4 separate regions of the Homo sapiens genome follow, and regions 2, 3 and 4 are each linked to region 1. The links come from fine-mapping of genetic effects on gene expression. A gene starts in region 1. Each other region holds a variant in brackets. All regions are shown on one strand. Distances are between the middles of the regions.

Region 1 (2,682 bases):
AGACGGCACCCTCGGACAGCAGACACAACTCCTTTAGTCCACGTTTTCAAAGTCGAGGTGCAGGGAAAACCCAGTGTGAACGGACTGCTCCTCGGGCTTTCCTTTAATCGGGCCGTTTCCAAAGTGGCAAAAAATTCACACAGGACCCAAGCTAGCTAGAGGCCTCCTGAGGGGTTCCCCAGGGCATCAGTGCAAGAAGCCCTGAAAGACAAAGCCAAATGACACAGAGTAGCAAAATGTGAACAAGGAATCAAAGAGAAGAGATAAGAAGGAGTAACAAGAAGAAGAATGAACTACAAAGACTGGGAGCGGGGGTGGGGGGTGCTGGCAAACGCATTTGTGATTTTCTTTTCCCCCCAGTGAAATGTCAGTTTTGAAAGCAGCTTCGGAAAATGTAACCAGCTTCTCACATCCCCCAAAAGAAGATGGGAGGAGGCTGTTAGCTCTTACTTCGAAGCCCGGCATCAGGAAGGGGCCCGTCCCGTCCACGTTTCCACGAGGAGCTCACCCTGCGGCTCCCACCGTCCCCGCATGGGCCCTCTCCCCAGATCCTGAAGTTTCCCATTCGGGGGTCCTGAACGCCACACCTCGCACAGCGGTGGAACTCGGTACTCGCGGGCGCCCCAGACCAGCAAACACTTTCCAACCGTCCTGAGCTATCCAGGGGGTCCCCAGAGGGATCCCGGGCCGCCCACGCCCCACCCTCCTCCCTGCAGAGGCGGCCACGCCCGCCCCCGAGACGCCCACCTCTCCCGCACCCCGGACCTCCCTCCCCCACGCTTAAGCCCACCACGCCTGGCGTCCTCCAAATTCCCCTTCCACTCAGAGCCCCCCACTTCCTGCTCACCCACCCCTCCCAAATCTCAGGCCCTTCACTCCCCATTTCGCGCTCCCTTGCTCACTCTGGGCACCTTGCCCCTCCGGCCACCACGCACGCCCTCTTTTCTCTGTCTGTCCCCTGGCACCGGCCCTCCACGGTCGCTCCCTGCAGGCCACCGGCTCAGTCCCGGGGACCCCACGCCAGGCCCCCGCGCTCAGGGCCCCTCCCCGCCGGCCCCCGCCCCGGGCCGGCCTCGTGAGCAGCCCCGGCCCTGCGCCTGCCCCGGGGCCCCGTACTCACGGCTGTAGAGGGCGATGCCCGCCGAGTCCGGGCCGGCGCGCACCTCGAGGCGCAGCGCCTGCTGCTCCGCGTGCCGCTGGATCTCGCCGTTCGCGTCGCCGATGGTGAGGAGGCGGGCGCCGGGGAACACCGACACGGTAGCGCAGGGCCCCGCGCCGCCCGGGACCGCCGACCCCGCGCCGCCCGCGCCCGGCCCCACCGCCGCCGCCGCCGCTGCCATCTTAGATCCGGCTCCAGGCCCCGCCGCCGCCGCCGCTGCGCCCGGGCCCAGGCCGCCGCCGCTGCCGCCGCCGCCGCCGCCGCCGCCGCCGCCGCCGCCGCCGCCGCCGCCGCTGCCGCTACCGCCGCCGCAGCCGCCGTGCAGGCCGAGGCCGAGCCGGGCAGCGCCGCCTGCCGGCCACGCGCCGCCTCGCCGCCGCCGCCGCCACCGTCGCCGCGGCCCGGCCCCGTGGCGCAGCGCCCTCTGCCGGCCGTCCTGGGCGCGGGGAGCTAGCGAGCGAACGAGAGGGCACCCCGTGGGGCGGGACCGGCTACGCCCCGCCCCGCGAGAACGGTCGCCGCTTTGTGAGGTGGCTCCACCGCCCGGGAACTGCGGGGCGGGAGGGTACGTCGGGGGCGGTGCTCGGGCGCGCGGGCACGCCCCTCGGAGGCCTGGGCCCCGCCCCCAGGCCGGCGCCTCATTAACGGCTGCTTTCGAGTGAGGCGGTGCGGGGACGGCGGGGGCGGTGCTCGGCCGCGTGGACACGCCCTGTACCCCGCCCCACACAAGCAGCCGCGCGTCGTGATGCGGCTTCCCTGCCCCGACCTGGACACGCCCCTGAGACTGGGCCCCACCCCCCCGGGCCCGCCCGGCTTTGTGAGGCAGCCCTCAGGGAGGCGTGGCCCAGCCGCGACGAGGCCCCGCCCCCGTGCCTGCCCGCGCCCTCCCACCCGGACTCGCTTTGTCAGCCGCCCCGCTCTGGGGAATGGGCGGGGGAAAGGGCGTGGCCAGCGCCCGGGCCTCGCCCCCAACCCTTCCCCCCACCGCCCCCGCACCGACGATTTCCGATGAGCCCTGGCCTCCAGGAGCAACCTGAGCCCGGTTGAAAGGACCCCTCCCCGACATTCGACCGCTCCTCCTCCCTTCCCCATCATCTCTGCCCACATTGCCTTCTTAATCCTTAATGTTTGACTGTCTCCTTTCGCACAAGATATCCTTTGACCCCCTCCTCTCTCAGCCCCTCCTCCAACGATGCTGAGTCCAGCCTGGCCCGGCGCAGGGCCCCTCTCCCGCCACACAAACCCGTCTTCTCTCTGCATCCCCCTTCATTTTGGGTGGCCCCATCTCTTTTGGGCGACCCAGTGAGCTTGGGCCACTTCCTAGCACTCCAGCTTTAACTCTTCCCTAGACCTCATTTACGCCTCATTCCTTTTTTTTTTTTTTTTTTTTCTTTGAGACGGAGTCTCGCTCTGTCTCCCAGGCTGGAGTGCAATGGCTCGATCTCAGCTCACCGCAACCTCCGCCTCCCGGGTTCAAGTGATTCTCCTGCCTCAGCCTCCCGAGTAGCTGGGACTACAGGCAT
Region 2 (2,682 bases), 44 kb before region 1:
TTTTTGAGACGGAGTCTCACTCTGTCGCCCAGGCTGGAGTGCAGTGGTGCGATCTCGGCTCACTGCAAGCTCTGCCTCCCGGGTTCACGCCATTCTCCTGCCTCAGCCTCCTGAGTAGCTGGGACTACAGGCGCCCGCCACCACGTCTGGCTAATTTTTTGTATTTTTAGTAGAGATGGGGTTTCACCGTGTTGGTCTCAATCTCCTAACCTCGTGATCTGCCCGCCTTGGCCTCCCAAAGTGCTGGGATTACAGGTGTGACCCACTGCACCTAGCTTTTTTTTCCTTTTGATTTTTAAATCATGGATCTATGTATCAAAAATCTCAAGTAAAATCAATCAATAAATCACATCAGCTCACCAAGGATAAATTCATCTAGTAATGGTTCTTTTTTATTTTTATTATTTATTTATTTTAATTTTAAAAATAGCGATGGCGTCTCTGTGTTGCCCAGGCTGATCTTGAACTCCTGAGCCTAAATGCCCCCTCTGCCTTAGCCTCACCTAATAATGTTCCACATGTATTGCATGTGTGCTGTGTGCTAAGTGTCTACATGCATTGACACTTTTGGCCCAAATCTCTGTGAGAGCGCTGTGCAGGGCAGAGGAGAGGGCTCAGAGAGGGGCTGTAGCTTCCTGAGGGCTGCACAGCTGCACAGCAATGGCAAGTGATCACTGCAGCAGTACCCTGGAGGCCCTACTCACCACCACAGGCTGCCGGAAATACTCATCCACCGCGGCACCTCGGAGGGCCGACAGGTCCACTCCATGGAAAGATGGCTGGTACCTGTGGACAGGCCCCACCCCCACAGCAAGGTCAGGGCTGCAGAAGAGGCAGGTGGGGTAGCCCTGCCTTCTCTCCCAGTCAGCCCTCATCTAGCCCAAGTCTTTCAGAAAAAGAGGAGTGCAGGCTCTCTGGGGAGCTGGGGCTGTCCCTGAGAAGGCAGGCTGTGGGGCCCAGGCGGGACACCCAGGGCACACTCACCAGAAGTTGGCCTTGGTGAACTGCTCCATGTAGAGCTGTTCATCCGTGAAGGGTGCAAGGTGGACGTCACCAATGGTAGGAAACATGTTTCCTGGGAGTGGGGCAGGGAGGGGTGCTGGCGTCAGGTGACACATCCCACACTGCCTGGCAGAGCTTCCAAAGGACCCCAAGACCCCCAACCCTGGGTGCTCCCAGCCTGTCATCCATTC[G/A]TTCCTGCACTCCTGTGACAGTGGCACCGAGCGCCTATTCTGATCAGTGTTTCATCACCACCACGGGTACCTGACCTGCACCAGCTCACGAATTCCACCTGAGACTGGGAGGCTGGTGGCTCATCTTTATGTCCTATTACTAGACCTGGCAGGTGTGAGGGACCTGCCAAAGACTCACGGGGAAGCAGGCAGTGCCCGGGATGTGGCCAGGCGCTGCCTCTCAGGCCCTGCCGTCTGTGCATGTGTGCAGCCGGGAAAGCATAGCAAAGTTGCTCTGGACAGAGGGAGGGTGGTGGGCCCCGGGCTACCCCAACGCCGCTGGGGACCTCAGTTGAGGCCAAGAGCCAGGTGGGGGAAGCCAAATCCACACCACAGGGACTGCCTAGGTTCTGGCACAGGCACCCAGCCGGCAGGATGGGCCACTTGGCCTGCCTGGTCTGGGCACACAGACTGAGGGAAGGGCAGGGCCTCCCTCTGTGACTCAAGGGTAGACGCATGAGTCAGGGCCAGTGGCAGGGAGGATCAGGGCCCCGCAGCCCCGCCTGCCCCAAGGAGCACCTGGCCTCCAGATGTGGGCCCCCCAGCCTTGCAAGCTGGGGGAGGAGATCCTGAGGTATCAGTGGGACTCTGCCTCCTCCTTACGCCACCAGGCTGTACCCGAGGCGAGAGCTGCAGGGCTGCAGCTGCTGGAACGGGGAGGGAGATGCACATGCTGCGGCTTCTGCCCTGGGGGACCTGGGGGCACCATGGGAAGTGACCCAGCCTGGAAGGAACCTCTGGCTCCTGCTGACCAGAAGACATGTGACTGGGAGAGGGGAGGGCTGCCTTTAACCCCTGGAAGAGCTTCCTGAGCTGGACAGGAGTCCTCCTTGCACAGGCCTGGCCTCCCCCCTCCCTGCAAGCTGGCTGCTGGGACGTCGGGGGCACATGCAGCTGCCCACAGAGCCTGACTGCCATCTGGCTTCATGTCCCATCGGGAGGGGCCCTCTCTGCTGGGGCTGTCCCCACCCCCATCCCCACCATCAGGGCAGAAGGGGAGGAGAGTGGGGCCCACAGCCCCTGGAGCAGCCTTGCTTCCCATACTCACACCCAAGACATGAGACACAGCTGTGGGACGCCACCTCCCACCTCCAGGAGCACAGCCAGCCAGGACCCTAGGGCCTGGATCCAGGGCGGGCCAGAGATGAGAGTGGAAGCTTCCCCCCTGCCCCTGCCTGCACAAGCCCCACCAGCCTGCTGCTGCCCACGCTCCATCCCATGGCTGCTACCCTGGCTGGGGACCTGTACCCTGCCACACGCACACACAGCTGCTTGCCTGTACAGAAATGCTCAGACGCTCACATACCTAGCATGAGAAGAGCCACAGGCACATGCCTCAGGCGTCAGGGCTGCACAGACCCCAAGACAGATGGGCAAATAGAAACAGTCACCCAGGCCAGGCACAGTGGCTCATGCCTATAATCCCAACACTTTGGGAGGCTGAGGCGGG
Region 3 (2,682 bases), 61 kb before region 1:
TCTCCGCTCACTGCAAGCTCCGCCTCCCGGGTTCACGCCATTCTCCTGCCTCAGCCTCCCGAGTAGCTGGGACTACAGGCACCTGCCACCACGCCCGGCTAATTTTTTAAATATTTTTAGTAGAGACGGGGTTTCACTGTGTTAGCCAGGATGGTCTCGATCTTCTGACCTTGTGATCTGCCCGCCTCGGCCTCCCAAAGTGCTGGGATTACAGGCGTGAGCCACCACGCCCGGCTTTATATATGTATTTCTATATCCAATTTTTATTTATGGCAACTGATAGCAGTATTTAACTATTTCTGACAAGAATTATTAGGATCAAAGTCCACAAGTTTGAGGATTAAGTCACAGAGCTGGGAGTTACAGTTCGAATCTTGGTCCTGCCACAGCCTTGGAAAAATAAATTTTCTGAACCTCAGCTTTTCCTCTGTAAAAGTGAGATGCTGACTTAAACCAACACCTGTTCAACCCACTGATTATGAATGCAAGGGTCAAATGCCAAAATTTGAAAGTAGCAAACACACAAAAACAAGTATCACAAACAAAGATAGTTGTTTTACCACCTGGTTTTATTAACTTGCCACAGGCCCCTGAGGTAGCATCACTCCCTTAATACTTCAGTTTTATGTTATTTATTTTTTCTCTTTTTTTTTTTTTGTGTGACGGAGTCTCACTCTGTTGCCCAGACTGGAACGCAGTGGCGTGATCTCGGCTCACTGCAACCTCCACCTCCCGGGTTCAAGTGATTCTCCTGCCTCAGTCTCCCAAGTAGCTGGGATTACAGGCGTGCGCCACCACGCCCAGCTAATTTTTGTTAGACGGGGTTTCACCATGTTGGCCAGGATGGTCTTGAGCTCTTGACCTTGTGATCCACCCACCTCAGCCTCCCAAAGTGCTGGGATCACATGCGTGAGCCACCGCATCCAGCCTTATTAATTTTTTGAGACGGGGCTTGCTCTGTCACCTAGGCTGGAGTGCAGTGATGCAGTCTTGGCTCACTGCAGCCTCAACCTCCCAAGCTCAAGCAATTCTTCCACCTCAGCCTCCTGAATAGTTGGTAGTACAGGTGTGTACCATACCCGATTAATTTTTGTGTATTTTGTAATTTTGTGTATTTTGTAGAGACAGGATTTCACCATGTCGCCTAGGCTGGTCTCGAACTCCTGGACTCAAGCGATCCTCCCACCTTGGCCTCCCAAAGTGTTGTAGTTACAGGTGTGAGCCACTGC[G/A]CCGGCCATAAATTACACTTAAAAAAAATAAAAAGTATTGAGGCCGGGTGTGGTGGCTCACGCCTATTATCCCAGCACTTTGGGAGGCCAAGGCAGGTGGATCACAAAGAGTTCAAGACCAGCCTGGCCAAGATAGTGAAATCCCGTCTCTACTAAAAATACAACAATTAGCCGGACGCAGTGCCAGATGCCTGTAATCCCAGCTACTTGGGAGGCTGAGGCAGGAGAATCGCTTGAACCCAGGTGGCAGAGGCTGCAGTGAGCCGAGATCATGCCACTGTACTCCAGCCTAGGCAATAGAGTGAAACTCTGTCTCAAAAAAAAAAAAAAAAAAAAAAAAATATTGGCCGGGCGCAGTGGCTCACACCTATAATCCCAGCACTTTGGGAGGCCGAGGTGGGAGGATCACTTGAGGTCAGGAGTTTGAGACCAGCTTGGCCAACATGGTGAAACCCCATCTCTACTAAAAATACAAAAACTAGCTGGGCATCATGGCATATGCCTGTAATCCCAGCTACCCAGGAGGCTGAGGCAAGAGAATCACTTGAACCTGGGAGGCAGAGGTTGCAGTGAGCCGAAATCGTGCCACTGCACTCCAGCCTGGGTGTCAGAGTGAGACTCTGTCTCAACAACAACAACAACAACAAAAATACAATTTACCATAACCTAGCTAAGTACCAGCTGTGTACACTAACTTACTTCTTTTCATAGAATTCTGTTTCAGGGTTACTGAAGTACAACATAACCAGAATCTATGATTCCATATAGATTTCCAGACCAGAAAATGCTTTATCCTTCCAAGCCACCTCCAGTAACTTACAATGCTCATCTGGTAAACAGGTTGTTTTACAAAAAACTTCCCTGTAACATCCCAATAGTCATGACACTGTCAATTGCCTGGTTTTGTATTTTTAATAGGGAACGAGGGCCGGGCACGGTGGCTCACGTCTGCAATCCCAGCACTTTGGGAGGCTGAGGCAGGCGGATCACCTGAGGTCAGGAGTTTGAGGCCAGCCTGACCAACATGATGAAATCTCATCTCTACTAAAAAATACAAAAATTAGCCGGGCGTGGTGGCATGCGCCTGTAATCCCAGCTACTTGGGAGGCTGAGACAGGAGAAACGCTTGAACCCAGGAGGCGGTGGTTGGGGCGAGTGCCACTGCACTCCAGCCTGGGCAACAAGAGCGAAACTCTGTCTCAAAAAAAAACTTAAAAAAATCAAAACAAAAATGTTACTTATTTATTTATTTTTTTGAGCTGGAGTCTCACTATGTTGCCCAGGCTGGAGTGCAGTGGTGCAATCTCTGCTTGCTGCAAGCTCCACCTCCCGGGTTCACGCTATTCTCCTGCCTCAGCCTCCTGAGTAGCTGGGACTACAGATGCCTGCCACCACGCCCAGCTATTTTTTTTTTTTTTTTTTTTTTGAGACGGAGTCTTGTTCTGTCGCCCAG
Region 4 (2,682 bases), 25 kb after region 1:
GCGCACCTCTCTGGTTGCGGTTCTGCAGATTAGAGGGGAAAAAAATGGATGAGATGTTTAGGTGGTTTTCACAATTTTTTCCTCTTTTTTTATTTTTATTTTTTGAGACAGAGTCTTGCTCTGTTGCCCAGGCTGGAGTGCAGTGGAGCGATCTCGGCTCACTGCAGCCTCCACCTCCCAGGTTCGAGTGATTCTCCTGCCTCAGCCTCCTGAGTAGCTGGGACTACAGGCAGGAGCCATCATGCACAGCTAATTTTTGTATTTTTAGTAGAGACGGGGTTTTGCTGTGTTGGCCAGGATGGTCTCGATCTCTTGACCTCATTATCTGCCCGCCCCAGCCTCCCAAAGTGCTGGGATTTCAGGCGTGAGCCACCGTGCCCAGCCTTTTGTCTCTCCTTCTAAGAGAACTCCTGGGAATGAGACAGGGTGACAGCAGTGGGATGTTTGGAAACCCATGCCCAAGACACAAACCATAGCCTAACCAGCACCAACATTTAAACAAATATGGGCAGGAGTGGGAGGACATGGTGGTTAGGGCTTGGCCTCTGTGACCTCAGGCATGGCTTACCTCCTTTGAGGCTTCAGTATACTGCTCTGCAGAATGGGGCTAAGAGTAGTAGACATTAGGCCAGACGTGGTGGCTCACGCCTGTAATCCCAGCACTTTGGGAGGCTGAGGTGGGCAGATCACCTGAGGTCAGGAGTTCGAGACCAGGCCAACGTGGTGAAACCCCGTCTCTACTATATACAAAAAATTAGCCGGGCGTGGTGGCACACGCCTGTAATCCCAGCTACTCGGGAGGCTGAGGCAGGAGAATCACTTGAACCCAGGAGATGGAGATTGTGGTGAGTTGAGATCGCGCCATTGCACTCCAGCCTGGGCAACAAGAGTGAAATTCCATCTCAAAAAAAAAAAAAAAAAAAAAGAGCAGTGGACATTAGATTCAAAGAACTTGTAGTAGGAAATGCAACGCCTAGTGGGTAGTGCATGCTCACAAGGTAAAGTTACAGGGAGGAAAAAGACTCAGAAGTTTGATCAGCCACATGAAAGGGAATACCAGTTCCAGATCAATTCTGGATATAGTTTGTGATATAGTTCACAGGATAAACTGCCTCCTGTTTACAGCCCAGAAACTTCCAAGTTTCTCTTACTACTGGGTTTGCATTTATCTTTTTAAACATTTCTGTTCAAGCCAGTCAGGTTTGCTTGGGGGTTTGGACCCAAGAAGGATGTGGCA[T/C]GTGGTCATCAAACACCAAAATGCGTCATTAGAGTAAACTTTTTTCTTTGGACACAGAAAGTTCAATCCAACCTCAGGGCCTTTGCACACACTATTTCCCTGGCCTGGAACACAATTCTGTCAACCTGGTCAAATCCTGCTTCTCCTTCAGGTCTCAGTTTAAATAGCACTTCTGGGAAAACTTTCCAGGCCCCTCTGGACTTAGAACAATCCCCTAGCTAAATTCTCCCACAGTGCCCTGTAATATTCCTTTATTGCAATTGGCATGCTTGTATCTTCAAGGAATTTGCTCATTTCATCAGAGTTGTCAAATGTATTGGTGTAAAGTTATTTATATCCCCTTACTATCCTTTTAATGTCTGTAGGGTCTGTAGTGATGTTCCTTCTTTCATTCCTGACACATAAATTAGTGAAGTCTCCTTGTCTCTTATCGGTCTTCCTAGGAGCTAATCATTGTTATTGATCTTTTCAAAGTGCCACAGTTTGGATTTGTTGTTTTATTTTCTATTTTATTGCCTTTTGACTTGACTTTATTCTTTTCTTTTTTCTGGTTACCTTATGTTCAATTGGCTCTTCTTTTCCTAGCTCATGTTTTGTTTTTAAATTTAAACTTCACCAGCAGAAATTTGTATTAATAGCTTCTTAAGATGGATGCTTATATAAACTCTTTTTATTAAAAAAAAATTTTTTTTAATTAGCCAGATGTGGTAGTGGGTGCCTGTAGTCCCAGCTACTCGGGAGGCTGAGGCTGGAGAATGGCGTGAACCCGGGAAGGAGAGCTTGCAGTGAGCTGAGATCATGCCACTGCACTCCAGCCTGGGCAACAGAGCGAGACTCTGTCTCAAAAAAAAAACAACAAAAAAACATTTTTTTTTTGAGACAGGGTCTTGCTCTATTGCTCAGGCTACAGTGAAGCAGCATGATCATGACTCACTGCAGCCTCACCCTGCTGGGCTCAAGAGATCATCCCATCTCAGCCTCCTGAGTAGCTGGGACTACAGGTGTCCACCACCACACCTGGCTAATTAAAAAAAAAAAAATTGTAGAGACAGGGTCCTATTATGTTACCCAGCCTGATCTTGAACTCCTGGGCTCAAGCAATCCTCCTGACTCAGCCTCCCAAAGTGCTGGGATTACAGGCAGCTCATTAACTTTAAACCCTCTTTTTTTTTTTTTTTTTTGACGGAGTCTTGCTCTGTCGCCCAGGCTGGAGTGCAATGGCGTGATCTCGGCTCACTGCAAGCTCTGCCTCCCAGGTTCACGCCATTCTCCTGCCTCAGACTCCTGAGTAGCTGGGACTACAGGCACCCACCACCATGCATGGCTAATTTTTTGTATTTTTAGTGGAGATGGGGTTTCACCATGTTAGCCAGGATGGTCTCGATCTCCTGACCTCATGATCCACCTGCCTCGGCCTCCCAAAGTGCTGGGATTACAGGCGTGAG

The links. PIP is the estimated chance that this variant, and not a neighbour inherited with it, causes the effect.
Region 2: its variant is the best candidate, but not a certain one, in a credible set for the expression of CARM1 in whole blood (TOPMed, PIP 0.80).
Region 3: its variant is the best candidate, but not a certain one, in a credible set for the expression of CARM1 in blood mononuclear cells (TOPMed, PIP 0.50).
Region 4: its variant is the best candidate, but not a certain one, in a credible set for the expression of CARM1 in whole blood (TOPMed, PIP 0.57).

What each region holds. Positions count from the first base shown.
Region 1 is chr19:10,870,361-10,873,042 of GRCh38, reverse strand. CARM1 (coactivator associated arginine methyltransferase 1) reads right to left here and starts at 1,490. Exons shown (of 16, transcript NM_199141.2): 1 at 1,121-1,490. The coding sequence starts at 1,340. RefSeq lists an enhancer at 41-220 and silencers at 961-1,170, 1,261-1,310, 1,441-2,230.
Region 2 is chr19:10,914,800-10,917,481 of GRCh38, reverse strand. It overlaps CARM1 (coactivator associated arginine methyltransferase 1), which reads right to left. Exons shown (of 16, transcript NM_199141.2): 7 at 985-1,075; 8 at 705-786. Among named protein-coding and RNA genes, the nearest start is that of YIPF2, 12 kb to the left of the region's middle. The variant G/A (reference allele first, on the strand shown) is at 1,194.
Region 3 is chr19:10,931,402-10,934,083 of GRCh38, reverse strand. No RefSeq gene overlaps it. Among named protein-coding and RNA genes, the nearest start is that of TIMM29, 3.9 kb to the right of the region's middle. The variant G/A (reference allele first, on the strand shown) is at 1,230.
Region 4 is chr19:10,845,613-10,848,294 of GRCh38, reverse strand. It overlaps a transcript of C19orf38 not described here. Among named protein-coding and RNA genes, the nearest start is that of C19orf38, 1.5 kb to the left of the region's middle. The variant T/C (reference allele first, on the strand shown) is at 1,238.